4 linked regions of the Homo sapiens genome follow. The protein of the gene in region 1 purifies or fractionates together with the protein of each later gene. This does not show direct contact. Each region holds a gene or a part of one and is shown in the gene's direction. Other genes may lie near its edges.

Evidence for each region.
Region 2: the proteins of DNAJA4 (region 1) and MLLT11 purify together in Homo sapiens (affinity purification with mass spectrometry; one study listed by BioGRID and IntAct). This does not show direct contact.
Region 3: the proteins of DNAJA4 (region 1) and DNAJC3 purify together in Homo sapiens (affinity purification with mass spectrometry, with the first as the bait; one large-scale study listed by BioGRID). This does not show direct contact.
Region 4: the proteins of DNAJA4 (region 1) and AICDA purify together in Homo sapiens (co-immunoprecipitation; one study listed by IntAct). This does not show direct contact.

The regions. Positions count from the first base shown.
Region 1 is NC_000015.10:78,272,507-78,280,264, forward strand, and holds part of DNAJA4 (dnaJ homolog subfamily A member 4), read left to right. Parts: intron 1-588; coding exon 589-693; intron 694-1,151; exon of another isoform or gene 1,152-1,690; coding exon 1,691-1,918; exon of another isoform or gene 1,919-2,594; intron 2,595-2,991; coding exon 2,992-3,222; intron 3,223-5,701; exon of another isoform or gene 5,702-6,294; intron 6,295-7,538; coding exon 7,539-7,639; intron 7,640-7,738; coding exon 7,739-7,758.
Region 2 is NC_000001.11:151,059,345-151,066,926, forward strand, and holds the start of MLLT11 (protein AF1q), read left to right. Parts: upstream 1-1,052; 5' UTR 1,053-1,209; intron 1,210-7,582. UniProt on the Homo sapiens protein: Cofactor for the transcription factor TCF7. Involved in regulation of lymphoid development by driving multipotent hematopoietic progenitor cells towards a T cell fate.
Region 3 is NC_000013.11:95,758,079-95,765,836, forward strand, and holds part of DNAJC3 (dnaJ homolog subfamily C member 3 precursor), read left to right. Parts: intron 1-1,961; coding exon 1,962-2,143; intron 2,144-2,600; coding exon 2,601-2,720; intron 2,721-5,564; coding exon 5,565-5,670; intron 5,671-5,754; coding exon 5,755-5,875; intron 5,876-7,758. UniProt on the Homo sapiens protein: Involved in the unfolded protein response (UPR) during endoplasmic reticulum (ER) stress.
Region 4 is NC_000012.12:8,600,678-8,608,435, reverse strand, and holds the end of AICDA (single-stranded DNA cytosine deaminase), read left to right. Parts: intron 1-1,423; coding exon 1,424-1,571; intron 1,572-2,950; coding exon 2,951-3,221; intron 3,222-3,513; coding exon 3,514-3,629; intron 3,630-4,098; coding exon 4,099-4,152; 3' UTR 4,153-6,266; downstream 6,267-7,758. UniProt on the Homo sapiens protein: Single-stranded DNA-specific cytidine deaminase. Involved in somatic hypermutation (SHM), gene conversion, and class-switch recombination (CSR) in B-lymphocytes by deaminating C to U during transcription of Ig-variable (V) and Ig-switch (S) region DNA.

The DNA.
Region 1 (7,758 bases):
TCTTGATGCTGTCAGTCTTGACAGGCTGGCAGGTGCTGGAGCACACCCCCACCCTGTGGACTGAACACCCACTGTCCTGAGTTGCAGAAGCAAGATTTTGGCAGAGGAAAGAATTCCCATTTGGCCACCGGTTACAGAAGGGCTCAGAAAGTAAAGTGCTTTATGCCCAAGGAAGTGAAAGATCCAGAGACTTTGGCTGCCAAACATTTATGTATAGAAAGGACTCCTTTCATGGGGAAACTTAACCAATTTCGTGGGTTAATACTGCCTTTGGTTTCTCAATTAGTACTCTCCTTGTCCTCAGATTTGTTCTCAGAAAATAAAGGTGGAAAGTCTTTTTGTTGGCCTCTATAAATGATTGAATAATTAGCTCATAGCTAGAGAGGGTATTAGCTCTTGTTATTGGCTGAGGGCCAGAAGGATGGGCTGGGGTAATAGAAGCATTGCTTCCTGCAGGGAAGGGAGCGCATGACCCAGCCACAGTCTTGAGTCTCTGGAGACTTCATACAACTAAGGGTCATATGGGTGGTATTTAATACAATGGTATATTTCATTCAACGCCACTAATTTTTTTTCTCCCTTGCTAAGGCAAGAATGTTGTACACCAGTTATCTGTAACTCTTGAAGATCTATATAATGGAGTCACGAAGAAATTGGCCCTCCAGAAAAATGTAATTTGTGAGAAATGTGAAGGTAAAAATTAATTTTTGACTGAACCGCACAGTTCTGATCCCTTAGATTCAGAAACAATGCTTGTTTTATAGTTCAGGGAAAATAAGTTATCTTTTTTCAAATGCAAGGGTCAAGCAGAGATTACAAACAGGTGGCCTGAGGGCCACACTTCTTTGCCTGAATGAATGTTTTCTTTGGGCTGCACCTCTATTTGACATGTTGACAATTATTTCTTTTTATGTTTTTGTATTTTTTATTTTTATTATACTCTAAGTTTTAGGGTGCATGTGCACAACGTGCAGGTTTGTTACATATGTATACAGACAATTATTTTTAAAAATTAAAAATCAGACACTTGACCTCATCTAGGGGTTGGCAGACTTTTTCTGTAAAGAGCCAGATTTTAGGCTTTCCAGGCCATGGAGTCTTTTGTAGCTAGTTCACTCTGCCGTCATAGTACATAAATGAATGGACATGCCTATGTTCCAGTAAAGCTTTATTTACAAAACCAAGCAGTCTGGCCATGGTTTCTTGACCCCTGACTTAAATGTATATATAATTATTGTAATTTTTAAAAAACCTGAGTTTTCAAGAAAAGCCATGTCTGGTGACCCCAGCCTCACATTGTCCCACAGAGAGAATTGGCTGAGCTGGGTAGCTGCCACTATTGACAGAGCTTGTGTTGTCTAGATCGCCACAGCCCCAGCCTCCTCATTCATCTGTGGGCCTATGCGAGTTCCACCTGGGGTGGAAGAAAACACATTTGATGAAGCTAAAGTAATAAATTTGGATTGGTGCAGCCAAAATCACAAACGTTTGAGGTCAGATGTTAACATCTGGATGTTGTCTGCTTGGCTGGACTCCTCCAGACTCTTCTGCATTGTTTTTTATTATTGTAAATAGAATTCTAAGCCCATTGTCCAATGTGAGGGTTCCCTACCCTTCTGCCATGGCGCCCAGCAGGGACACTGGTAAGGGAAGAGCATGGCCCTCATTCCTGCCTCCCCTGACCCTGCAGGTGTTGGTGGGAAGAAGGGATCGGTGGAGAAGTGCCCGCTGTGCAAGGGGCGGGGGATGCAGATCCACATCCAGCAGATCGGGCCGGGCATGGTACAGCAGATCCAGACCGTGTGCATCGAGTGCAAGGGCCAGGGTGAGCGCATCAACCCCAAGGACCGCTGCGAGAGCTGCAGCGGGGCCAAGGTGATCCGTGAGAAGAAGATTATCGAGGTACATGTTGAAAAAGGTGAGGCTGCGCAGAGCTGGTGCTCCACACGGGCTGGAAATGCTGTCTGGGTGCTAATCGTGAGATACACAGACTAGATGTCAGGGAAGTGAGCTGTATCACAACATGTATTGGGTGTGCCATGAATTCCTCTTGTTTCCCAGTCTTCTCTTCACCCTTCCTGGCCTTATTTCCATTCCATGTCACCTGCCAAAGTGTTCTTGCTGAGGTTTACTTCCTTGAGATCACAGACAGCCTCTTTATGAGGTTTTCTAACGCTCTGAAAGTCTTACCTGGCCTTGGTTTGGGTTAGTTGCCATCTCCTGACATTCTCAAGCCATTCCTCTAGAATCTTTCGGAGTGTCTTCCTGGTCGCTTCTGATGCTCATTGGCCATAAGGGCTTGTGTAAGTGTTTGTGGCTGCATGTTCCCTTTCTCCACATTTCCCCATGTGCTGCATCAGATTCCCCCAAATACAGCACCTTCTCCTGCTATTCATTTTGCCTGATGCCATCATTTTAAGGCCTTTTTCCATTTTAGCTGTCCTCCAAGTATTCCGATGATTCTGTGGCTTTCCAATCCAGTAAATATATCCTAGATCAGAGATGAGACCAAAAGTAAAAGAATCAACAGCCAAACCGACACAGGTGTTATTAAAGGACTTACTGTTTAAACATGCCTAAACCCTGTGCCTTGAGTGTGCAAGCTGACTTATTAGAAAAGGACAGGGCTGGCTGACCTGTCCCTATCAGTCCCAAGTCATGCACCCTGTGCCCCGGGAAGTGGGCGGTGACCCTATGCTGGTGGTGTGGCATCACAGGCCCTGGGCAGGGAGTGCTGTGTAAACCTGGGATGTAGAGCCGCATTCCCCCACTCCCTGTGCATGCTGGGCTTGGCCCCACATTATGCCAAGGGAAGCGGGACCTCTTCTGTCATTGGCCATCCTAGCCACCCCTCCCTGCCTTGTGCCTGCATGAGGTTGGGAGACTTGATGAATAAAGAATCCCTGAAGGACTCTGTTCCTTCTTCAAAAGCTTTAAGGAAGCATGGTTTGTATGAGAAATGGCTAATCAGAAAGGGATGATGTTTCATAGGTATGAAAGATGGGCAAAAGATACTATTTCATGGAGAAGGAGATCAGGAGCCTGAGCTGGAGCCTGGTGATGTCATAATTGTGCTTGATCAGAAGGATCATAGTGTCTTTCAGAGACGAGGCCATGACTTGATCATGAAAATGAAAATTCAGCTTTCTGAAGCTCTTTGTGGCTTCAAGAAGACGATAAAAACATTGGACAATCGAATTCTTGTTATTACATCCAAAGCAGGTAATGTTTCAAAGTGTGTTTCCATTGATGTTCTGTATGTTTGGCATAATAATTCTGGCAAGTTAGCCTGATTTTTTTATTGCTACATAATATTTTACATATTGATGGGGTGCATGTGATACTTTGTCCCTTGCATAAAATGGGTAATGATCAAGCCACGTGTTTAGGGCATCTGTCGCCTTGAGTATTTATTTCTTTGTGTTGGGAATAGTTCCCCTGATTTCACATTTAAGGTCAAATTCTGTTACACAAATTAGTATGATGTGATTTTCTCTAAATTTAAAACTGTCCCTAATAACTCTGGATAATTTATAAAGTTCTTGTATATTCTCCTAGAAAAAATATTCAGTTGGGGGGAAAGTCTCAAATAAGAATCTTGGGGCTCTGAATTTTAGATGAATTCTGGCAATTAAACTTAAGTTTTTAAAAATTTATTTTTGTATAAGAAAACAGCTTAATAGGTGGTGTTTTTCTATCAAGTGGTGATTTGTGCTGATTCATCCACATGTTCCTGTAGCCTCTGTTGTTCATTACATGAGTTACATTTTAAAATAGAATTTTCCTGTAAGAAAGACTTTGCCTATCAGTTTATCCTTGGAGGTTTCCACAGGAATTGCTGGTCTGCACACACCCATGGGAGCCAGAGGGAGATGCCTCTAGGCCGAAAGGGTTCCTGAGGCCTGAGCTCAGCCCCCAACCCCCCTGTAGACACCAGGGCACTCATCTCCCAGGAGGGTTGGTGTGTTCACTGTAGTTGAGGGTTTGTGTGGGCACCAGAGCACCTGCCTAGAAGGGGCTGAGAAGGGAGAGAGGCCAGGCCAGGGACCTTGACTTGAAGCTGCTTCTGAATAGCACTAAGGTCAGCTGTGCATAGCAAAGAATGTCTGGATGGGTGTGGTGGCGGCTACGCCACCGAAGCAGCCTGGGCCCCAGCACCAGCCATTTGCAGTGTTGCTGTAGTCCCCTCACTGGCCGTGGGGCTGGGATTACCTTTTTCTATGGCCATTTGAGGTTTGGTGCAAAAGGGGTAGGTTCAGGGCAGGCAGGGAGGTAACCACCAATAAGCCTGCCCCCAGGGCAGTGGCAGCTGGAGATAAGACTCAAGTCTGGTGGGGTGACTGAGGCCTGGACTTCTGTTCCCTCCGTGTCCCTCTCCCCCTTCCCCTCCTTGTCTGCTTTTCTCTTCCCAGCCTTGTGCTCTTTTTCTCTTTCCTCTCTTGGATTCTTTCAGGTTCCTCCTTTCCTGGGGATAGTAGGAAGCAGAATTATATATCCAAGCCTTGATCGGTTTGTGGAGTTTTAAAATAAACTTATTTGGAAACAATTTCAAGCTTACAAGAAGTTGTAAATATAAAAATAGTCCGAGGCCCATCCATATATGATTTGTCTGATGTTAACATTTTACCCCATTTGGTTTGTCATTTGATCTGTGTCTGTTTTTATTTATTTTTAAAATTTGTTCATTTATTTTTTGAGACAGGGGTCTTGCTCTGTCGCCCAGGCTGGAGTGCAGTGGCGTGATCTCAGCTCGCTGTAACCTCCACCTCAGCCTCCCGAGTAGCTGGGACAGCCACATGCCACCACGCCCATCTAATGTTTGTACTTTTTGTAGAGACGGGGTTTCGCCATGTTGCCCAGACTTGTGTGTGTTTTTATACATATACTTAATCCAGGATTGGGGGAAGCACTGCAGTATAATGCAAAATTTGCATGAAAATTTAAAATAAAACACCTTCCCTTAGGCTTCCATAGACCTCCCAAGGCACCCATTTCCTCCCTCAAGGAGGAGTTTGAGGATCACAGTTTACACGAAGCTCCAGACCACTGGTTGTGAGCTCAACACCCTGGCATTGTGTCCAAGATGCCCTTACGTGGTCACAGCCCAGATCCTAGCCCTCCTGAGCCGGGGCTGGGAAGCATCTGTGTGTAACTTCTTTGGGAAAGCCTGTCCTGTCCAGGGGTGGACTATTTGAGGTCCTGGGCCCCACCAAGAGCCAGCGTTCCTTGCTGTCTCAGCTGACCCCAGCCTAGGGAGCCGGGAGCCAAATGGAGTGAGGGTGGTGGAGAAAGAGCCCCAGAGGGAAGGAAGTGGCAAATCCCAAGAAATCCATTTCCTTCTTTATTATAAGGAAGGGTGGAGCATCCAGGAAACCTGCCGTTGGAGAGTTCTTTGGGGATTTGTTTGTCCTTTTTGTTTTGTTTTTGTTTTTACTTTGTTCTCTTTTGCACCCTCTCTTTTCTTCACCCCTCTTTTGTGTTGGCTTATTTCTTGTTTCTCCATTTTCTCTTCTCCCTCTTCTTCCTCTTTTCTGCTGTTGAAATGCCTTCTTCCCCAGAGCCTTTTAGCCTGTTATGAGCATTGCTGAGGATTGGATTAATTAAAAAAGTGATTTTGGAGCCACACAAGGGTGTGATGGCCCTGCCTGCAGGCAGGTATTTACCTGCCGGGAGAGCCTAACTCGTGGTCTTCTTCTCTTACCTGTAGTTTTCCATGCTTGGTCAGTTTCCCAGCTCCCAGCAAGCTAGAAGCAGAAGCATGGGGAGTAGGGCTTGAGAGCAGCAAGAAGCGACACCTGATAGGAATGGGGAGACAGAAAAACCAGTCATATGTAACTTAACGAAGGGGATATGTTCTGAGAGATGCATTGTTTGGCGATGTCGTTGTGGTGTGAACACCATAGAATGTACTCACACAGACCTAGATAGCATAGCCTGCTACACCCTAGGCTGTGTGGCATAGCCTGTTGCTCCTGGGCTAAAACCTGCACAGCAGGTTGCTGTACTGAATACTGTGGGCAGTTGTAGTACGATGCTGAGTATGTGAGTATCTGAACATAGGAAAGGTGCAGTAAAAGTTTGGTGTAATCTTTGCAACCATCTTCATAAATGTTGTTGACTGAAAGGTCACTATGCTGTGCATGACTGTATTTCTTTTTTTTTTGAGACGGAGTCTCGCTCTGTCGCCCAGGCTGGAGTGCAATGGCGTGATCTTGGCTCACTGTACACTCTGCTTCCCGGGTTCACGCCATTCTCCTGCCTCAGCCTCCCAAGTAGCTGGGATTACAGGCACACACCACCATTCCTGGCTAGTTTTTCTATTTTTTTTTTTTTTTTTTTTTTTTAGTAGAGACGGGGTTTCACTATGTTGATCAACCTGGTCTCGAACTCCTGACCTCGTGATCCGCCCGCCTCGGCCTCCCAAAGTGCTGGGATTACAGGCGTGAGCCACCGTGCCTGGCCATGACTGTATTTCAAAAAAAAAGAATAAACAGGAACACAAAAAGCCAGCAGCCTGGAGCAGTTTAGCTAAGGGGTTGCTGTCCTGCACAGTCAGTAGGCTCTGAAGGCCATGTCTGAACCACAGCCCTGCCTGCGAATGAATCTCAAGGATAGTCATTGGCTTACTTTATTTTTAAAACCTCCTCTTTAAAGATTTCCTCTTGAAGAGACAGCTCACTTTCTACATAGTCCCGTATGGAAGTGGACTGCTGAAGAAATTAGTGTTTCCATTCCCCTCCACCGTCTCCCCCATTTTTTCCGAACATTTCTTTCTGTCTTTGTCCATTTTCATCGCTGAGCTGAAGAGCATGCTTTATCAGAAACCCTTTTGTCCCTTTCCTTTTCCATGCTTAGAGGGAAGTTTCTGACTTGGGAGAACGCCTTAGAGTTCTTGGGGTCTGAACTCCTCTGATGCCTTCCAAAGTCACGTAGCTGTAAGACCCAGCGGGTGCCAGCCGGGAGGGTGACTCCAGCTCAGCAGCATGTATGGAAGTGCATTGTGACCATGAAGGAGTCTGCCAGTGGCCAAGCCACCTAGTGAGCTCCCTACCAAGGAACCTGGGTGTCACCTGCAGGTGGCCAAGAGCCAGTTTTTATGCCAGGCAGGGGACTGGTTGGACTCTATTGAGGCTTCTTCCTGTCTGTGGGGAGCACTCCTGTCCCCCTCGTGGTAGGGATACCTGTCACCCCACAAAGAGGCAGGGTGACAGGTGTTGGCCCCATTTTAGGCAGACTTGGGTGTCATGACTTCTAGTTCACTTGTTTTAAACCTACCTGTGATGGCAGCTGCACCATGCTGCCCTCTTGACACACTGCTGGAGCCCAGAGCACAGGCCAGAGTCTCAGCCTGAGCCCCTTCCCCAGGCAGTACCTGACAAGGATACCTGGGATTGGGGCCAGCTTTCCAGTCAGATGCCACGTTTCCTTTGCCCACTGCCACGGGGCACTAGGGCCTGCCGCAGGCTCTCCCATGAGGGAGAACGACCTCTGCAGGCCCCTCTGCCTTCCTCCTTCCTAATTGACCCTTTCTCTGGCAGGTGAGGTGATAAAGCACGGGGACCTGAGATGCGTGCGCGATGAAGGAATGCCCATCTACAAAGCACCCCTGGAAAAAGGGATTCTGATCATACAGTTTTTAGTAAGTTCACTATGTTTCATTGTCATGGACATATTATTAAATGCCTTAATTGGAAGGGGAAAAAACAGCCACCTTTCTTTCCCACCTCACCCTTTACAGGTAATCTTTCCTGAAAAACA
Region 2 (7,582 bases), on another chromosome or scaffold:
CGCACCCCTTTCCCACCACCCCAGCATCTCTGCAGCCCAGGACACCCGCCTCCCCCACACCCCGCATCCGGTGTGTCTCCGCCTGGCCCGGCCGGCGCGGCAGGCGGGCCAGGGGACCAACTGCACGGCCTCACCTGCTCTTCTCCACCATCCAGACGTTCAGCTACAGCTGGTGGGGGTGAGGGACTCTGCTCCGTGGCCGCCAGTGTGGGCTTCCCGGGCTAGCTCTGCGGCGAGGTGGGGGAGCCGAGTACGAGCCGGCAGAGGTGGGGCCGGCTGAGGGCGGAAGCGGCGGCGACGCGATTACGAAACCCGTCCGGCTCGGAGCCCGGCGCACTGCTCCCCTCTGGACTGCGGAGGCACTGCACTGCGCGGGACGTGGGAGGGTGCCTCTGCAGCCCCTCAAGGCCGCCGCCCCTGCGGGGAGAACTGGAGAATGCGGACACCTAGATGAGGCCCTGGCACCCAAGCTGGGGCCCCCGGAATCTCACGTTCCCTTTACTCGCCAGGCATTTCGGGGCAAAACGAAGCGGAGCCCCCCAAACCCCCAGACCTAACCAAGTTCAGAGATTCGCAGAAGCACGCCCCCCACCCCAAATTTATTGTGCTCTACCCAAAATGGAATAGGACTAGGTTTATTTACCCATTGTGAGGGTAGAGAGGCGAGTCTGGAGGAGCAGGGATTGGGAGAAGGGGTGGAAAAATACTCTGATTCTTAAAAATACTTTGTAACCTAAAGTCCTTAAATTGTGGAAGAAAGGAATACTCCTCCTTTCCATTGTAGTCTAGAGTTAAGATTTCAAATCCATAAATTAGAGGACCTAAAATTAGAGGGCAATTAACTGCTCATTCATTGGGCCCCCAGTCAGCACGGGGGTGCTGGAAGAGATCGGGAATAATAGCGCAGACCAATGAGCCTAGGGAGATGCTTTCATCGTCTCTCCTTCCCTCAAGTGTTCTGGAACCTATCATTTGAATTAGCCGAGTCAGGCAGGAGGGGGCGGGGAATCCTTCCGCCCTTCTTAGGAGGGGCTGCATTGCAGGGGGAGAGTGAACTGACAGACTCAGTCACTGAAGAGGGAAAAGGAGTGAGAAGACAAAGCCGTCAAAGCCCCAACAGCTTTGTATTTCTCCAGCCCGGCGCAGACCCCGGAGCTCCCGAGGCACTCCCTCCATCTTTGGAACACGCCAGTAATTGATTGATAACAGGTAAACCAAACTGAGGGAGGGGGCAGGGGGCTGCAAAGATAGAAGAGCGGCTGCTTATGGTTAGATTGAAAGACCCCACATGAGGTGGGGGACAGCTGAAGAGGAGAGAAGGGGGCGCTATGAACAATGGGTAGTTATTTCTTCACAGCATCCATGCCTTGTTACCTTATACAGACCATTAATCTCTAACAATTTACTTGTAGTTATTTCTCAGCACCTACCTCATTTCAAGTATCCTTTTCTGTAATTTATTGTCCTGTGTATTTAATATCTTCAGTCTACTTATCTTCCTTTTCAAACCATAATTTGTTTTACCAGCTGTTTAATTTTTAGTCCTACTGTATCTCTCTGTCCTCTACTTCCCTATACTTGCAATTTTTTTCTGTAGTGTTCTATGTTTCTCTGTAGGAGGGAGTTTGGGAGGGGGTTATATGGGATAATGTTGGGTGTAATCCTGACCTTTCTTTGGATAATCTCTTTCATTCCACCTCGAATCTTTGCTCCAAAGAAAGAGGCAGCCTAGGGTAGGAAAGGTGGGGGCCTCTGTGTTGGAGAACTGCCTGATTCCATAGTGAAATCAGTATAGCCCACAGGAGCTAGGTATGGGGACAGATTCTGGAAAAGAATGATTTGCAGCTCAGTGGAATTGGTGGAGGAATGCTAGTAGGAAAATCCAAGCTCTGACTGAGGCACACATTATGAGATGTCAGAGAGGTTCTGCTCCCCTCTACCACCACCACCACCTTGTCCTTCCCCCTTCCCCATGGTGGCAGCATGACACAGCAAGGCCCTGTTGAGTAGGCCTTGGATGCCCACAAAGGGTCTGGACAAAGGATATTTGGGCGTGTCTGTGTGGCTCCGAGAGTGTATCTTTCTAATCTATACATTTGCTAATCATGTATCTCTAAGAACAGAGTGATAATTAGATATTGCCTTTGCCTAAAATACCCGGATAATTTAAAGTGAAGGATAGTGGGAAGCATTTATTGAACATATATTGTGGTACAAGGCACTGTCAAAACCCTTTAAGTAAATGATACCATTTAAGATAATGAAAGATGTAAAGATAGATGAAGTAGGGCTGGAGAGCATTTGTGGAGGGGAAGGGGAAGCTAGCCAAAAAAGGATCTTTTGCGAAATTTGGAGTATTTGATAATTAAATCCATACTATATTAAATCAAAAATGTCATTACTACTTACATTAGTGAATAGCATTTTAACTTCAATTTTCTGTGTAGTATTACTTTATGTTCTTGACTTGATTTTAATGCCACGTATGTTTGCATGCATGTCTTTCTTGAATGTATTTGGTACCCTGTGTACATGTCTCTGGGTCAATGACATAGAGATTTTAGGCCTTTTGAGTTAATATTTCATAAAATTTGCTTTAGCTTTTTAAATTGCAAGATAGCTCTACCAAACACTCAGGGACTGTTTGAGCAGTTTTTTATACATACTCTGGTTGTAAGAAAAGGAGTCAGTTTGTCGAAGAGCTTTTTTTTTTTTCTCAGATTCTAGCTTGCTCTACTGCCCTTTGCTTTTCCCCATTCAGATCACAATTACAGGAACAATCACCTAAACCACGGAAAATCTATTCTTCAGCAACTAAAAATTCTTTTAAGTTTTGGGAATACTGGTATAGGGTTATATAAAGCTGTTGGCAACTATCCATGTACAACACAAAAAGGGATCAGATTGGGAATTATGAGATCTGGATTCTATACAAACTGGCTGGAAGTCTTCCCAAGTCATTAATTTCTAAGATGTCTTCTAGTTTTAAAATTCTATGATTTTTTCCCCCCATGATTCTATTTTTTTTTTTTTTTTAAGATGGAGTCTCGCTCTGTTGCCCAGGCTGGAGTGCAGTGGTGCAATCTTGGCTCACTGCAACCTCCACCTCCCCAGTTCAAGCGATTCTCCTGCCTCAGCCTCCCGAGTAGCTGGGATTATAGGCGCCTGCCACCACACCTGGCTAATTTTTGTATTTTTAGTAAAGACGGGGTTTCACTATCTTGGCCAGGCTGGTCTCGAATTCCTGACCTTGTGATCCACCTGCCTCGGCCTCCCAAAGTGCTGAGATTACAGGCGTGTGCCACCGCGCCTGGCCCCATGATTCTATTTTTTAAAGAGCCTATAATGTGGCCTGCATTATACTAAGCTCATTCTGGAGAAGACTTGTCAGGTAGGATAGAGAAAAGAACCCAGCTAGCTGTGAAAATAACTGGTAACAGTAAGAATCCCTGTAGCCACAAGTCCATAACAGTATTGACTCCTAGGTATGCTTCTTAGAATCTCTATAGTCCCAGATTTAAGCAGTGGGTGGTTGGTTAATGGATACAACCATTTTTTGTAGCTCTCTTTCTGCACACGTCTCTGCAAAGTACTATGGAGATTATCAGAGTTGAGTATCATAGGATGATGACCTCACCTTTCCAACATGCTCCCCGACCCTGCTGCAATCCCGGCATCACCCTCCTTCTAAGCAGCTTCTCTGCTGAGTAATGCTCAGTTCCCAGGGTTTATTTTGGAACTTAAACTAAGAAAAAGAACAACTCAGAATTCACTTTCAACATTAAAAACATCCTAGCCTACCCACTCACCATTCCTGAAGCCCCCACACTCTCACACATCACTGTGTTCTAGATTAACACTTTCTTTTTCTGCCTTAGTACAGTCATTTCACATTATACTGGAGCATTTTGGAACCTATTTAAGGCCATTATTTAGGAGTCTCTGGCCTGGTGAGACCCAATAGGGTGTGTTGGAGAAAGGCCTTTTGAAACTTGGGGTTCTGTTTTTGGAGGTGATAGAATGTTCTTTCTGCTCCTTTGGGAACATTTCAACTAATGCTTCTTTTTTTAATTTTTATTTATTTATTATTATTATTATTGAGACGGAGTCTTGCTCTTTCGCCCAGGCTGGAGTGCAGTGGCGCTATCTCAGCTCACCGCAAGCTCCGCCTCCCAGGTTCGCGCCATTCTCCTGCCTCAGCCTCCCAAGTAGCTGGGACTACAGGCGCCCACCACCGCGCCCGGCTTAATATTTGTACTTTTAGTAGAGACGGGGTTTCACCGTGTTAGCCAGGATGGTCTCGATCTCCTGACCTCGTGATCCACCCGCCTCGGCCTCCCAAAGTGCTGGGATTACAGGCGTAAGCCACCACGCCCGACCACAACTAATGCTTCTTGACCCTTGGCTAGTAAGTAGCAGGGTGGAGGCTGTAGGCAGCTCTAATAGTCCTAAAATATCAGGCAGGGCTTGGGTAGAATGAGTAGAGAAAGTGATAGATCCATTAACGCATGGAAGAGTATCTGATTCTGTTAAAATACCTTCTTCCAATCTGAACTTTACTTTAAATCCAAATGGATTTCCAATCCATTTGCTCTCATTATCATCAGTATACTCGAGCACTGGGATCAGAGAAAAGAGATCCCTGTTACAGCATAGGAAAGTTATTTATTTATTTATTTATTATTACTTTTTTTGAGATGGAGTTTCGCTCTTGTTGCCCAGGCTGGAGTGCAATGGCGAGATCTCGGCTCACTGCAACCTCCACCTCCCAGGTTCAAGCAATTTTCCTGCCTCAGCCTCCCAAATAACTGGGATTACAGGCATGCGCCACCTCGCCTGGCTAATTTTGTATTTTTAATAGAGACAGGATTTCACCATGTTGGTTGGGCTGGTCTTGAACTCCTCACCTCCTGATCTGCCTGCCTCGGCCTCCCAAAGTGCTGGGATTATAGGCGTAAGCCACTGCACCTGGCTAGGAAAGTTCTTTTAGCACCTAGGTTTTGTTCTGAAGGAGAGGTAGGCTAGAGAGAAATGGATTGTTAAGGCTTACCTGTGGGCTAATATAAGGGAATGGCAAGGTATTAATTAAATAGTGAGGGAAAGTTAATCAGCAGCCTTGAATGGCTTTGTGTACAAAGCCCACCACTTGTGTACAGAGAAAGTAGATTGGTCTTTACCCTTGGGGAAACTCCTAGGTATGGGGACAGATTCTGGAAAAGAATGATTATTTGCAATTCAGTGGAACTGGTGAGGGAATGCTAATAGGAAAATCCAAGCTCTGACTGAGGCACGCATGGTGAGATGCCAGAGAGCTTCTGCTCCCCTCTACCACCACCTTGTCCTCCCCCTTTCCCCATGGTGGCAGCATGACACAGCAAGGCCCTGTTGAGTAGGCCTTGGATGCCCACAAAGGGTCTGGACAAAGGATGTTTGGGCGTGTCTGTGTGGCTCCGAGAGAGTGTATCTTTCTAATCTACATATTTGCTAATCATGTATCTCTAAGAACAGAGTGATAATTAGATATTGCCTTTGCCTAAAATACCTGGATAATTTAAAATGAAGGATAATGGGAAGCATTTATTGAATATATATTGTGGTACAAGGCACTGTCAACCCTTTAAGTAAATGATACCGTTTAAGATAATGATAGATGTAAAGATAGATGAAGTAGGGGTGGAGAGCATTTGTGGAGGGGAAGGGGAAGCTAGCCAAAAAAGGGGTCTTTTGCAAAATTTGGAGTATTTGATAATTAAATCCATACTATATTAAATCAAAAATTTCATTACTATTTACATTAGTGAATAGCACTTTAACTTCAATTTTCTGTGTAGTCTTATTTTATGTTCTTGACTTGATTTTAATGCCACATATGCTTGCATGCATGTGTTTCTTGAATGTATTTGGTACCCTGTGTACATGTCTCTGGGTCAATGACATAGAGGTTTTAGGCCTTCTGAGTTAATATTTCATAACATTTGCTTTAGCTTTTTAAATTGCAAGATAGCTCTGCCAAACCCTCAGGGACTATTTGAGCAGTTTTTTATTCATACTCTGGTTTTAAGACAAGGGGTCAATTTGTCAAAGAGCTTTTTGTTTTTCTCAGATTCTAGCTTGCTCTCTACTGCCCTTTGCTTTTCCCCATTCAGAAGGCAATAAGGCCATCCCTATACATAAAATACATTAACAGTGATCTGTAATCCCAAACTGATGGAGTTAGGTAAAACTCTACAGGGTGTTGGGGGAGATGCTGGAGGAAATAGAGTAGATGAAGCTGAGTAAAAGTTTAAGGAAGTCATCTGCAAGAGGTGAGTTTATAGTAGGATTTAGAAGGCAAGAAGGAAAATAGAAAGCAGAAAAGTCACGGAAGGTCTTTTCACACATACCATGAGCTATTAAACCAAAGTCAGGAGGAAGTCAAGTATTTTTAAGTATAATAGGAGTTTGGGCTAGGGGAACGGGGGTTCCTCTATAGACTTGGAGTTTTTTGTTTGTTTTGTTTTGTCTTTTTGTTTTTTGAGACAGGGTCTCACTCTATTCCCCAGGCTGGAGTGCAGCGGCACAATCTCAGCCCACTGGAACCTCTGCTTCCTAGGCTCAAGTGATTCTCCCACTCAGCCTCCCAAGTAGCTGGGACTACAGGCGTGCACCACCAGGCCCAGCTAATTTTTTGTATTTTTTGTAGACGGAGTTTTGCCATGTTGCCCAGGCAGGTCTGGAACTCCTAGTCTCAAGTCATCCGCCTGCCTTAGCCTCCCAAAGTGCTGGGAATACAGGTGTGAGCCACTGAGCTCTTGAATGGAGTCCTGAAATGTGGAAAGTCTTTTTTTTAAGACAGAATCTTGCTCTGTTGCCCAGGTTGGAAGGCTCACTGCAACCTCACCCTGCTGGATTCCAGCAATTCTCGTGCCTCAGCCTCCCTAGTAGCTGGGACCACAGGCACAAACCACCATGCCTGGCTAACATTTTGTATTTTTAGTAGAGGCAGGGTTTCCCCATGTTGGACAGGCTGGTCTCAAACTCCTGGCCTCAAGTGATCCACCCACTCTGCCTCCCAAACTTCTGAGATCACAGGCATGAGCCACCACACCTGGCTGAAATGCGGAAAGTATTTTAAGGTGGAGAATGGAGAGAGTTAAGCAAGACAGGAATGAGCATAACTGTAACAGAGGATATACCACTGCTGGGAAGAATGGGCTAGATTTTGGAAGGCCTTGAAAATCAGACCCAAGATCAATTTGATGCAATAGATGGTAAATAAGTCATTCCAAGATGGGAAGTTTAGAAAATAGTAGAAATTCGGCCGGGCGCGGTGGCTCACACCTGTAATCCCAGCACTTTGGGAGGCCGAAGCAGGCAGATCACGAGGTCAGGAGATCGAGACCATCCTGGCTAACATGGTGAAACCCCGTCTCTACTAAAAAATACAAAACATTGGCCGGGCGTGGTGGTGGGCACCTGTAGTCCCAGATACTCGGGAGGCTGAGGCAGGAGAATGGTGTGAGCCCAGGAGGTGGAGCTTGCAGTGAGCCAAGATCGTGCCACTGCACTCCAGCCTGGGCGACAGAGCAAGACTCCGTCTCAT
Region 3 (7,758 bases), on another chromosome or scaffold:
TAGCGGTTAGATAATGGGATAAAAGATGAAAAAGATGGTTGGAGTAAAAGGAAAAATGATGTTCGGGAGGAAAGAGGAATGTTTAGAGAAAAATTTCTAGAGAATAAGGCAGATAAAGAGTTGATAGTATGTGCCTGTAGTCCTAGTTACTTGGGAGCTGAGGCTGGAGGATCACTTGAGCCCAAGAATTTGTCGCTGCAGTGAGCTGTGATTGCTCCACTGTACCCCAGCCTGGGCGACAGAATGGGACCCTGCCTCTAAAAATATTAATAATTGGCTGGGTGTGGTGGCTCATGCCTGTAATCCCAGCACTTTGGGAGGTCGAGGTGGGTGGATCACTTGAGGCCAGGAGTTTGAGACTAGCCTGGCCAACATGGCAAAATCCTGTGTCTAAAAAAAAAAAAAAGAAAATTAGCTGGGTGTGGTGTGCATGCTTGTGATCCCAGCTACTCGGGAGGCTGAGGCGCTCGAACCTGAGAAGCAGAGGTTGCAGTGAGCCACTACACTGTAGCCTGGGCCACAGAGTGAGACTCCGTCTCAAAAAAAAAAAAAAAAGTTAATAATAATAATGGTTGATAGGATCCAGAGAGTTCTAGCTAGGGAAACCTGAGTCTAGGTTTCCTTGCCTCTGAAGGATTTAATGACAACTGATTTCCGAAGGAAGTCTACTGAAATATTCAAATGGAAGCAGTCGTAATTCACATTTATTTGTGATTTTCACAGTATTTTGATATACAGTTTCATTTAATTTTGGCTCTAAACTTATGATGTATGTAGAATGGGCAATTTGTTGATAATTTTACAGAAGATATTGTGATATGGTCCAGTAGAATTCATGTTTTACTGGGTTATTTTGTTTATGCTTTTTTAAGGAAATATAGTTTACATTTTTACATTCCCATAGACTATCCATTTTGAACTTAGTTCATTGTCCATGATATTTATGTATAATGTTGGTTTTGATATTTTTGTATATGTGAAAAGTCGATACGACTTTAGAGCAGCTCTAAGAAATATGCAAAGATACTTCCACCAGCCTTATTGATGAGCTCTTGGGTTTATGATTTGAAGAATACTATTGTGTTTCCTAAACCCTTATGGACTTTTTGATAAAATAGGAATGGTGAAGCCTCAACCTCCTGCCCTCTCACGGTATTTTTTCTTTCTTTCTTTCTTTTTCTTGATATGAGGATTTACTTTTAAGGCGGTGACATTTACAGAAGATAATTTCTTAAAAAAGGTTTTTGTTTAGAGACTGGGTCTCTCTCTGTTACCTAGACTGGAGTGCAGTGGTGCGATTGTAGCTCACTGTAACCTTGAACTCCTGGACTCAAGTGATCCTCCCATCTCAGCCTCCTGAGTAGCTGGGACCACTGGTGTGTTCCACCACACCCAGTTAATAATTTTAAACTTTTTATAGAGATGAGATCTTGCTTTGCTGCCTAAGCTGGTCTGGAATTACAGGCATGAGTCAATGTGCCCAGCTAAGAACATAATGTGGTTATTAGCAGAAAAAAGTATTTTGCCAATGTAGAACCTAGGTTTTATTTTTTTGACTACAAATTAGAATTGTTGATTAAGTATAAAAATCTGATAACAGAATATTCTCTTCAAATATGCTTCACTAGGAACAACCCTCCAATAGTAAATGCTATGTTTTCTTATTTTCAGTGTCTTAGAATTATATAATCGAAGGAGGTAAGAAAAGGGCCTTGTTATTATATATATCTCTTCCCCCATTAGAATTCATTTACAACATTTTTGGAGAAACTATTTTGTCACATCAGTTTTGTCACATTTAAATTGTATCAGATTTTAAAATAATATTTGCACTATATAAGTCATCACATCAATTGAGAATGTTTTATGTTGATAAATACGTAGATAAAAAATACGTGGAATGCAACAATGAATGTGCATAATTTATTCTTTCTTAAAGTCTAGTTCTTTTGTTCCTCAAGGTTTGTGTTTGGGATGCAGAACTACGGGAACTTCGAGCTGAATGTTTTATAAAAGAAGGAGAACCTAGGAAAGCTATAAGTGACTTAAAAGCTGCGTCAAAGTTGAAGAATGATAATACTGAAGCGTTTTATAAAATAAGCACACTGTACTACCAACTAGGAGACCACGAACTGTCCCTCAGGTCAGTTCTAGTGACACACATGTCTGATCTTTTTTAATTGTTGGCAGTAAGATTACCTCATCTTGTTTTAACATTTTAATATTAAATTAATAAGATGATGGTAGTTAAGGCTGTTTTTATATTGTATATCCATTTATATATTTTGTGTTATTCCCAAGTTACTTTAATTCCACATAGTTTGTTTTCATGAAGCTGCTTATTAAACAGGAAGGCTCTTATATTTATAGAAACAAAATGGAATGTTTACTATATAATGCTAGTAAGTCATTTTAATTTGAATTAACAAATGTATGCATGGTACAATGCCACGTATAAATGTATATAGTAAATTATAAGTCTCAGTATGGTTTTTGTTTAATCGTTGCAAACAAAAAATACTTTTATTGTGATTTCTGTGGAAAACTACTCATTGATTGTTTTGACATGGAGTATTTTCCTTTTTTAAATACATGAACAGTGAAGTTCGGGAATGTCTTAAACTTGACCAGGATCATAAAAGGTGTTTTGCACACTATAAACAAGTAAAGAAACTTAATAAGCTGATTGAGTCAGCTGAAGAGCTCATCAGAGATGGCAGGTGAGAATATGGTTGTTCCAACTGTCCAGCCATTCCTTATGTGCGGGGCTGTGGGCACAAGTGAACTACAGAACTGCTCTTTTACTTCTCAGCCATTGAGGGTGGGGTATTCTAGATAGCCCTGGGCCTTAGCAAAACTACCAGAATTGGACATTTTTGGAATAGGGAAGAATATAAATAATAGTAACTGTGTAGTATCCTTACCAGCAGAATTACTTGTACTATACCAAATATTTATTATCTCCTATATCAGGCTGAGCTATGTACTGAGGGTGCAGACTTAAACTTGACAATAGTTTTTGTTCTTAAGAAGTTTATAGCATTGCGTGGGAGACAAATATATGAATTGATTATTAAAAGACAATATGATACCAAAGTGATAGAATGTACATAGGATAATTGGAGTACCAAAGAGGAGTATTTACTCCAAACCAGGATGGTAAAGGCAAGGAGTAAAAGAGGAGCTTTTTTTTTTAGAGAAGGTGATAGATATTTAAATCCTAATCCTAAAGAATAAGTAAAAGTGGACAGAAGTAAGAGGCTGTGTCTGTGTGAGTGTTGTTTGTAGGGGGTTTATAGGCTGGGCAGGAGGACTGAAAAGAGTAGAGGGCACTGCAGACAAAACTGCCTAATAGAAAATAGGCTCCAATTCCTCTACTTTTAGTAGCTTTGTAAGTTGCCATCATGAGAATGCTTCACTCGGTTTCCCCCAACATCTTGCAGACTATAACGCCTTGCAAAACTATAGTACATTGTCACAATCAGGATATTGACGTGGGTGCAGTCAAGATACAGAATAATTCCATCCCAACAAGGACACCTCATGTTGCCCTTATAGCCACACCTACTTCCCTCTTGTTCCTATCCCTTCCTTAGCTTGTGGCAACCACTAATCTATTCACTTGTAGAATTCTGTCATTTTAAGAATGTTACATAAATAGAATCATACAATGTATAAACTTTTGGGATTGGCTTTTTTTTTTTTTGAGACAATCTCACTATGTTGCCCACCTGTTCACAGATACAGTCATAGTACACTCAAGTGATCCTTCTGCCTCAGCCTTCTGAGTAGCTGGGACTTCAGATGCATGCTACCACAGCTGGCAGGATGGGCTTTTTTCCCCCTCATTCGAATTGTCTGGAGATTTATCCATATTGTATCAATAATTCCTCCTTGTTTACTGTTGAGTAGTTTCCATGGTATGGATTTACTGCAGTTTGTTTAACCATTTATCCATTGAAGGACCTGAGGTTGGGAGTTTGAGACCAGCCTGACCAACACGGAGAAACCCTGTCTCTACTAAAAATACAAAATTAGCCGGGCGTGGTGGCGCATGCCTGTAATCCCAGCTACTGCGGAGGCTGAGGTGGGAGAATCGCTTGAACCCGGGAAGTTGAGGTTGCGGTGAGCCGAGATTGTGCCATTACACTCCAGCCTGGGCAACAAGAGCGAAACTCCGTCTCTAAAAAAAATGTTTTCTGTTTGCAAGTCTGTCCTTTTCAGGTCCTCTGGCTAGACAGAGCAGACTTCTGCAGGTTTTTGTTATTGTCGTTCTGTACCTGTTGGCGTTTCTGCATTGCTGGAATCTTCAGCTCCAAGTCTGGGATATATGAAACAAAAAAAAAGAACCCAGGGAACGTCTTACCATGTTTTCCTCAGGTCCTGAGTCACTAGCTAGTCTGTCTCTTTTCCTCCTTTGAAAGTTTTCTATTTTAAAAAATATACATATAATCTCTAGGGTTTTTTAGTTGTGCTTAGCTGGAGCACTTGGGACAAATACATCTATTCCACTTTCCCAGAAGCTGGCTTTTTTGTTTTCTTCTTTAAGTTCCAGGATGTATGTGCAGAATGTGGAGGTTTGTTACATAGGTAAACGTGTGCCATGGTGGTTTGCTGCACCTATCAACCCATTACTTAGGTATTAAGCCCCACATGCATTAGCTATTTGTCCTGATGCTCTCCCTCCCCTTGCTGCCTGCCCCACACAGGCCTCCGTGTGTGATGTTCCCCTCCCTGTGTCCATGTGTTCTCATTGTTCAGCTCCCACTTATGAGTGAGAATATGCAGTGCTTTGTTTTCTGTTCCTGCGTTAGTTTGCTGAGGATGATAGAGAAGCTGGCTTTTATTTTAAATGTTTTAGTTAAGCCTGTGTTTTAATACATTGGCATATTTACATATGAAGATTGTAGCACTTTGGGAATAGTGTGCCACCATGGCATAGAAACATATTTTTTACTTTACTATTGTTGAGGGAAATAACTGAGTATATAACAGGATTAGTACTTTTTACTGGTTTAAAGAAAATGCTGAAATAGCTTTTATTCTTAGAAAGCTTATACAGTTGGGAATTTAATCAGGTACCTTTTGTGTGAACTACGTTGTACTTTGTTGTAAATACTGACATTAATTATATAAAATGGCACGTAATGGGTTCCATTATTTTCATGGAAGTGTTTACTGACCAAGAAATAAAACTTGATCTCTGTATTGTTCAAGGTGCTCAGTGTAAGTCAGACTTCAACAGGGTGTTTTACTCAGGTTTGGAATTCTGAGCAATGTTTCTGTAAGGAAATTCTTCTGGTTTGATTGGTACTTATACTCACAGGTATGCTTTGTTCTGTCCATCTGCATCTCCTATGGTCATATGTTTTTATTTCCTAACTCTTAATTATGGAGTGTACCTTCTATGGGACTCTAGATTAATAAGGGAAAAGCCGAATCTGAAGCCATGGGCTCATCCAATTGGATTGATTAAGCAACACATGGTGAAGAGGGGAGGAGCCTTTCTACAGCTCTGGAAATCAAATGTCATCATTTCTTATCATGATTTGCTCATTTCTTAGATACACAGATGCTACCAGCAAATATGAATCTGTCATGAAAACAGAGCCAAGCATTGCTGAATATACAGTTCGTTCAAAGGAGAGGATTTGCCACTGCTTTTCTAAGGTAACAGTTGACTTGTTCCCAGAAATGTGAAAACTCAACATGTGGAATACCAACCATAAATCCTTGTCTCACATTTCCTTTTAGGACGAGAAGCCTGTTGAAGCTATTAGGGTTTGTTCTGAAGTTTTACAGATGGAACCTGACAATGTGAATGCCCTGAAAGATCGAGCAGAGGCCTATTTGATAGAGGAAATGTATGATGAAGGTAAATCTTTAAGGATTTGATTTGCAGTACCGAAGTGTTGATTAGGAAATTATCACATTTTAAGCTTCCTTTTCCTTAAAACAAATTTACCAGAGTACCTGGAAATGTTGACAATTTTAGAAAAATGGCAGAGAACTTGAAAATTACTCTTCCATAGTGGAACCTGAAAGGTATACCATGTGAGGAAAGAGTTCTGCCATTGAAACCAGTTCAGTACAATAGAAAAATAAATATTTTAGCTTTTTTTGTAGAAAGGAAAAAAAATAACAAAATAGAAAATTTAAATTGTAGCTCTCATGTTATCCGGAAGTAATCACTGTTCATTTTGCATTTATCTTTTCCAGCTTTTATCTATGCACATATATTACTCTATATTTTATGCACATATACATATTCTCTCTCTCTCTCTCTCTCTCTCTCTCTATATATATATATATATATACTCGGTGTGTATAAAACATAAATACAGAAAGCATACATACATGTCATATATCCCTAATATAAAATGATCCTCTGTGACCCCAAGCTGTTTAGTAACATAGGACAGCTGCTACCCTATTTTGTTCAAGCCAAATGAAATAACAAGAGATTCCTGCCAGATGTTGTGAGGTCCTTGGATAAAAGCAGTGTCCTGTTTTTGGAAGATAACTACGGCGTATACAGTAATATACAGTTTTTGAAAAATAGAATCCATATATATATATATATATATATATATATATATATATATACACACACACACATATATATATACATATATATATACACATATATATATATACATATATAATACATGTATATATATACATATATATATATAGTTTTGTGCCTTTTTTCATGTGACACTATGTTATGAACATTTAAATGATACAGGTTTTTAAAAAAATAAATGAGCCTTATAAGCCCTTATTGCAAATATTTTGTTTCAAATTCAGGTAAAGCATTTTAAATCAAAAACAGTAATTTTCTCTTACAGTTAAATGAAGGGTTCGAATGGTAAAATTTGGTTTGTGATACTCTTTTTAAGGCAAAACTGGTCAATCTCTTTTTCCCTGCTTTCCTCAATTAGAAAAGAATCTTGCTCCTAAGCAAGTTCCCAGTTTCCAGGGAATGATGACAACCTGGTCACTACTATTTGTGGGACATCTTGTGGGGGATTCAGACCTTGAGGTCTCTGAATGAGGCTTGAAATGAATGCAGTCAAAATGACACTTTAATATTTATAAGCATGCTTCAATAAGGCATGTAGTCCACATAGAAAATCCCTTTAGCATACTCGTTTTCTTTCCTTTTGAGCTACCGTGTCTACTCGGTGAGATGGTTTTACTCTAGGATTTGCATTCCAGTTAGCTTTTGGAACTCTTTATCAAAGATACTTTTGTCATCTGTATGTAAACCCTTAGCTCTCACTGCGAAATTAGAGAAGCTACAGAAGAATATAAAGAGCTTAGCTGTTAAAAAAAAAAAAAAAGGCTAAATCTTGTAGAATGCTAAGTGTAATTTGAAAGATGCATTTGGAACTTGAATGTTAAACTGACTTGCTTTTTGGGGAAACCTGATGGCTTAATTCTGGAAGAAAAAGATGCTTAGTGCTAATTTAATATAATTGATCTGTTTTTTTTTTTTTTTTTTTTTGGAAATGGAGTCTTGGTCTGTTACCCAGGCTGGAGTGCAGTGGCACAATCTTGGCTCACTGCAACCTCCACCTCCCAATTGCAACCAATTCTTCTGCCTCAGCCTCCTGAGTAGCTGGGATTACAGGTGTGCACCACCACGCCTGGCTCATTTTTGTACTTCTAGTAGTGATGGGGTTTCACCATGTTGGCCAGGCTGGTCCTGAACTCCTGACCTCAGGTGATCTGCCTGCCTTGGCCTCCCAAAGT
Region 4 (7,758 bases), on another chromosome or scaffold:
TTGTATTTTTAGTAGAGATGGGGTTTCACCATGTTGGCCAGGCTGGTCTCAAACTCCTGACCTCAGAGGATCCACCTGCCTCAGCCTCCCAAAGTGCTGGGATTACAGATGTAGGCCACTGCGCCCGGCCAAGTATTGCTCTTATACATTAAAAAACAGGTGTGAGCCACTGCGCCCAGCCAGGTATTGCTCTTATACATTAAAAAATAGGCCGGTGCAGTGGCTCACGCCTGTAATCCCAGCACTTTGGGAAGCCAAGGCGGGCAGAACACCCGAGGTCAGGAGTCCAAGGCCAGCCTGGCCAAGATGGTGAAACCCCGTCTCTATTAAAAATACAAACATTACCTGGGCATGATGGTGGGCGCCTGTAATCCCAGCTACTCAGGAGGCTGAGGCAGGAGGATCCGCGGAGCCTGGCAGATCTGCCTGAGCCTGGGAGGTTGAGGCTACAGTAAGCCAAGATCATGCCAGTATACTTCAGCCTGGGCGACAAAGTGAGACCGTAACAAAAAAAAAAAAATTTAAAAAAAGAAATTTAGATCAAGATCCAACTGTAAAAAGTGGCCTAAACACCACATTAAAGAGTTTGGAGTTTATTCTGCAGGCAGAAGAGAACCATCAGGGGGTCTTCAGCATGGGAATGGCATGGTGCACCTGGTTTTTGTGAGATCATGGTGGTGACAGTGTGGGGAATGTTATTTTGGAGGGACTGGAGGCAGACAGACCGGTTAAAAGGCCAGCACAACAGATAAGGAGGAAGAAGATGAGGGCTTGGACCGAAGCAGAGAAGAGCAAACAGGGAAGGTACAAATTCAAGAAATATTGGGGGGTTTGAATCAACACATTTAGATGATTAATTAAATATGAGGACTGAGGAATAAGAAATGAGTCAAGGATGGTTCCAGGCTGCTAGGCTGCTTACCTGAGGTGGCAAAGTCGGGAGGAGTGGCAGTTTAGGACAGGGGGCAGTTGAGGAATATTGTTTTGATCATTTTGAGTTTGAGGTACAAGTTGGACACTTAGGTAAAGACTGGAGGGGAAATCTGAATATACAATTATGGGACTGAGGAACAAGTTTATTTTATTTTTTGTTTCGTTTTCTTGTTGAAGAACAAATTTAATTGTAATCCCAAGTCATCAGCATCTAGAAGACAGTGGCAGGAGGTGACTGTCTTGTGGGTAAGGGTTTGGGGTCCTTGATGAGTATCTCTCAATTGGCCTTAAATATAAGCAGGAAAAGGAGTTTATGATGGATTCCAGGCTCAGCAGGGCTCAGGAGGGCTCAGGCAGCCAGCAGAGGAAGTCAGAGCATCTTCTTTGGTTTAGCCCAAGTAATGACTTCCTTAAAAAGCTGAAGGAAAATCCAGAGTGACCAGATTATAAACTGTACTCTTGCATTTTCTCTCCCTCCTCTCACCCACAGCCTCTTGATGAACCGGAGGAAGTTTCTTTACCAATTCAAAAATGTCCGCTGGGCTAAGGGTCGGCGTGAGACCTACCTGTGCTACGTAGTGAAGAGGCGTGACAGTGCTACATCCTTTTCACTGGACTTTGGTTATCTTCGCAATAAGGTATCAATTAAAGTCGGCTTTGCAAGCAGTTTAATGGTCAACTGTGAGTGCTTTTAGAGCCACCTGCTGATGGTATTACTTCCATCCTTTTTTGGCATTTGTGTCTCTATCACATTCCTCAAATCCTTTTTTTTATTTCTTTTTCCATGTCCATGCACCCATATTAGACATGGCCCAAAATATGTGATTTAATTCCTCCCCAGTAATGCTGGGCACCCTAATACCACTCCTTCCTTCAGTGCCAAGAACAACTGCTCCCAAACTGTTTACCAGCTTTCCTCAGCATCTGAATTGCCTTTGAGATTAATTAAGCTAAAAGCATTTTTATATGGGAGAATATTATCAGCTTGTCCAAGCAAAAATTTTAAATGTGAAAAACAAATTGTGTCTTAAGCATTTTTGAAAATTAAGGAAGAAGAATTTGGGAAAAAATTAACGGTGGCTCAATTCTGTCTTCCAAATGATTTCTTTTCCCTCCTACTCACATGGGTCGTAGGCCAGTGAATACATTCAACATGGTGATCCCCAGAAAACTCAGAGAAGCCTCGGCTGATGATTAATTAAATTGATCTTTCGGCTACCCGAGAGAATTACATTTCCAAGAGACTTCTTCACCAAAATCCAGATGGGTTTACATAAACTTCTGCCCACGGGTATCTCCTCTCTCCTAACACGCTGTGACGTCTGGGCTTGGTGGAATCTCAGGGAAGCATCCGTGGGGTGGAAGGTCATCGTCTGGCTCGTTGTTTGATGGTTATATTACCATGCAATTTTCTTTGCCTACATTTGTATTGAATACATCCCAATCTCCTTCCTATTCGGTGACATGACACATTCTATTTCAGAAGGCTTTGATTTTATCAAGCACTTTCATTTACTTCTCATGGCAGTGCCTATTACTTCTCTTACAATACCCATCTGTCTGCTTTACCAAAATCTATTTCCCCTTTTCAGATCCTCCCAAATGGTCCTCATAAACTGTCCTGCCTCCACCTAGTGGTCCAGGTATATTTCCACAATGTTACATCAACAGGCACTTCTAGCCATTTTCCTTCTCAAAAGGTGCAAAAAGCAACTTCATAAACACAAATTAAATCTTCGGTGAGGTAGTGTGATGCTGCTTCCTCCCAACTCAGCGCACTTCGTCTTCCTCATTCCACAAAAACCCATAGCCTTCCTTCACTCTGCAGGACTAGTGCTGCCAAGGGTTCAGCTCTACCTACTGGTGTGCTCTTTTGAGCAAGTTGCTTAGCCTCTCTGTAACACAAGGACAATAGCTGCAAGCATCCCCAAAGATCATTGCAGGAGACAATGACTAAGGCTACCAGAGCCGCAATAAAAGTCAGTGAATTTTAGCGTGGTCCTCTCTGTCTCTCCAGAACGGCTGCCACGTGGAATTGCTCTTCCTCCGCTACATCTCGGACTGGGACCTAGACCCTGGCCGCTGCTACCGCGTCACCTGGTTCACCTCCTGGAGCCCCTGCTACGACTGTGCCCGACATGTGGCCGACTTTCTGCGAGGGAACCCCAACCTCAGTCTGAGGATCTTCACCGCGCGCCTCTACTTCTGTGAGGACCGCAAGGCTGAGCCCGAGGGGCTGCGGCGGCTGCACCGCGCCGGGGTGCAAATAGCCATCATGACCTTCAAAGGTGCGAAAGGGCCTTCCGCGCAGGCGCAGTGCAGCAGCCCGCATTCGGGATTGCGATGCGGAATGAATGAGTTAGTGGGGAAGCTCGAGGGGAAGAAGTGGGCGGGGATTCTGGTTCACCTCTGGAGCCGAAATTAAAGATTAGAAGCAGAGAAAAGAGTGAATGGCTCAGAGACAAGGCCCCGAGGAAATGAGAAAATGGGGCCAGGGTTGCTTCTTTCCCCTCGATTTGGAACCTGAACTGTCTTCTACCCCCATATCCCCGCCTTTTTTTCCTTTTTTTTTTTTTGAAGATTATTTTTACTGCTGGAATACTTTTGTAGAAAACCACGAAAGAACTTTCAAAGCCTGGGAAGGGCTGCATGAAAATTCAGTTCGTCTCTCCAGACAGCTTCGGCGCATCCTTTTGGTAAGGGGCTTCCTCGCTTTTTAAATTTTCTTTCTTTCTCTACAGTCTTTTTTGGAGTTTCGTATATTTCTTATATTTTCTTATTGTTCAATCACTCTCAGTTTTCATCTGATGAAAACTTTATTTCTCCTCCACATCAGCTTTTTCTTCTGCTGTTTCACCATTCAGAGCCCTCTGCTAAGGTTCCTTTTCCCTCCCTTTTCTTTCTTTTGTTGTTTCACATCTTTAAATTTCTGTCTCTCCCCAGGGTTGCGTTTCCTTCCTGGTCAGAATTCTTTTCTCCTTTTTTTTTTTTTTTTTTTTTTTTTTTAAACAAACAAACAAAAAACCCAAAAAAACTCTTTCCCAATTTACTTTCTTCCAACATGTTACAAAGCCATCCACTCAGTTTAGAAGACTCTCCGGCCCCACCGACCCCCAACCTCGTTTTGAAGCCATTCACTCAATTTGCTTCTCTCTTTCTCTACAGCCCCTGTATGAGGTTGATGACTTACGAGACGCATTTCGTACTTTGGGACTTTGATAGCAACTTCCAGGAATGTCACACACGATGAAATATCTCTGCTGAAGACAGTGGATAAAAAACAGTCCTTCAAGTCTTCTCTGTTTTTATTCTTCAACTCTCACTTTCTTAGAGTTTACAGAAAAAATATTTATATACGACTCTTTAAAAAGATCTATGTCTTGAAAATAGAGAAGGAACACAGGTCTGGCCAGGGACGTGCTGCAATTGGTGCAGTTTTGAATGCAACATTGTCCCCTACTGGGAATAACAGAACTGCAGGACCTGGGAGCATCCTAAAGTGTCAACGTTTTTCTATGACTTTTAGGTAGGATGAGAGCAGAAGGTAGATCCTAAAAAGCATGGTGAGAGGATCAAATGTTTTTATATCAACATCCTTTATTATTTGATTCATTTGAGTTAACAGTGGTGTTAGTGATAGATTTTTCTATTCTTTTCCCTTGACGTTTACTTTCAAGTAACACAAACTCTTCCATCAGGCCATGATCTATAGGACCTCCTAATGAGAGTATCTGGGTGATTGTGACCCCAAACCATCTCTCCAAAGCATTAATATCCAATCATGCGCTGTATGTTTTAATCAGCAGAAGCATGTTTTTATGTTTGTACAAAAGAAGATTGTTATGGGTGGGGATGGAGGTATAGACCATGCATGGTCACCTTCAAGCTACTTTAATAAAGGATCTTAAAATGGGCAGGAGGACTGTGAACAAGACACCCTAATAATGGGTTGATGTCTGAAGTAGCAAATCTTCTGGAAACGCAAACTCTTTTAAGGAAGTCCCTAATTTAGAAACACCCACAAACTTCACATATCATAATTAGCAAACAATTGGAAGGAAGTTGCTTGAATGTTGGGGAGAGGAAAATCTATTGGCTCTCGTGGGTCTCTTCATCTCAGAAATGCCAATCAGGTCAAGGTTTGCTACATTTTGTATGTGTGTGATGCTTCTCCCAAAGGTATATTAACTATATAAGAGAGTTGTGACAAAACAGAATGATAAAGCTGCGAACCGTGGCACACGCTCATAGTTCTAGCTGCTTGGGAGGTTGAGGAGGGAGGATGGCTTGAACACAGGTGTTCAAGGCCAGCCTGGGCAACATAACAAGATCCTGTCTCTCAAAAAAAAAAAAAAAAAAAAGAAAGAGAGAGGGCCGGGCGTGGTGGCTCACGCCTGTAATCCCAGCACTTTGGGAGGCCGAGCCGGGCGGATCACCTGTGGTCAGGAGTTTGAGACCAGCCTGGCCAACATGGCAAAACCCCGTCTGTACTCAAAATGCAAAAATTAGCCAGGCGTGGTAGCAGGCACCTGTAATCCCAGCTACTTGGGAGGCTGAGGCAGGAGAATCGCTTGAACCCAGGAGGTGGAGGTTGCAGTAAGCTGAGATCGTGCCGTTGCACTCCAGCCTGGGCGACAAGAGCAAGACTCTGTCTCAGAAAAAAAAAAAAAAAAGAGAGAGAGAGAGAAAGAGAACAATATTTGGGAGAGAAGGATGGGGAAGCATTGCAAGGAAATTGTGCTTTATCCAACAAAATGTAAGGAGCCAATAAGGGATCCCTATTTGTCTCTTTTGGTGTCTATTTGTCCCTAACAACTGTCTTTGACAGTGAGAAAAATATTCAGAATAACCATATCCCTGTGCCGTTATTACCTAGCAACCCTTGCAATGAAGATGAGCAGATCCACAGGAAAACTTGAATGCACAACTGTCTTATTTTAATCTTATTGTACATAAGTTTGTAAAAGAGTTAAAAATTGTTACTTCATGTATTCATTTATATTTTATATTATTTTGCGTCTAATGATTTTTTATTAACATGATTTCCTTTTCTGATATATTGAAATGGAGTCTCAAAGCTTCATAAATTTATAACTTTAGAAATGATTCTAATAACAACGTATGTAATTGTAACATTGCAGTAATGGTGCTACGAAGCCATTTCTCTTGATTTTTAGTAAACTTTTATGACAGCAAATTTGCTTCTGGCTCACTTTCAATCAGTTAAATAAATGATAAATAATTTTGGAAGCTGTGAAGATAAAATACCAAATAAAATAATATAAAAGTGATTTATATGAAGTTAAAATAAAAAATCAGTATGATGGAATAAACTTGAGAGTCCAGAAGTTATCCCATACATCTGTAATCAACTAATTTCTCACAAGGGTGTAAGGACCATTCAATGGAGAAAAAATGATCTTCTCAACAAATGGTGCTGAGCTAATTGGATATTACATGCAAAGGAATGAATTTGAGTCTCTACTACACACCATATATAAAAATTAATTAAAAATTCATCAAATACCTAAATATTAGAGACTAATTTATAAACCGTAGAGAGAAACATAGGTAAAAATGTTTATGGCTTTAGATTAGGCAACAGCTTCTTAATTATGACATCAAAAGCACAAGCAACCAAAGACAAAAATAAATAAGTTGGACTTCATCGAAATTAAAAATCTTTGTGCATCAAAGGACACTTAGTAAGAAAGTGAAAAGACAACCCACAGAAGTGGGAGAAAACACTTGCAAATCATATATCTGATAAGGGTTGTGATATTATGATATATATATAGGTTTTTGTCCATAGTTCCTGGCTTATAAACCCCCTCACCCTTGTTACAGTCATTTGTTATAAGGTTGGATGGTTTAGGCCTCAGAAGCAAAACTCTCTCTCTCACCTTCTCCAGCCCTCCTGTCTCTGGCACCTCATTCTTCCCTGAGGCCACATAGAAACTAGAATCTCTCTTCCACAAGGCGGTCAAAGAAACCAGCACCTCCTTTCCCCCAAACCAGTCATAAAACCTAAAAATATTACTCTAATTCCCCCTCCTTTCCATATAAGCACTGGCTATAAGGAAATAATCTGACTGGGCATGATGGTTACGCCTGTAATCCCAGCATTATGGGAGGCCGAGGCAGGCAGGTGCCCTGAGCCTTGGAGTTCAAGACCAGCCTGGGCAACACAGTGAGACCCCATCTCTAAAAAACTTAGCCAGGCATGGTAGCACACATCTGTAGTCCCAGCTACTCTTAAGGCTGTCTCAAAAACAAAAAATAAACAAAAAACTGACCTATCTTGTTGGATTGTAGATCACGAGACCCTCATTCCAGACAGGGTCCTGCCCATATCCTGGGTGAAGGAATGCTGCACAGAGAGGCCAAGAAGAATCTGAACAGACACGCCTTACTGGGTTTCCCCAGTCTATCAGCATTAGATCATATCCTTTTTTCTTTTTCTTTTTTGAGACAGAGTCTAGCTCTGTCACCCAGGCTGGAGTGCACTGGCGCGGTTTCAGCTCACTACAACCTTCGCCTCCTGGGCTCAAGCAATTCTACTGCCTCAGCCTCCCGAGTAGCTGGGACTACAGGTGCCTGCCACCACGCCTGGCTAATTTTTGTATTTTTAGTAGAGATGGGGATTCACCAAATTGGTTAGGCTGGTCTCGAACTCCTGACCTCGGGTGATCTGCCCACCTTGGCCTCCCAAAGTGCTGGGGTTACAGGCGTGAGCCACTGTGGCCGGCCTTGATCATATCCTTTTTTCTAATCACAATTTTACAGGTTGTCCACGCTTCAGTTATGCCTATCCAATGAAGTCTC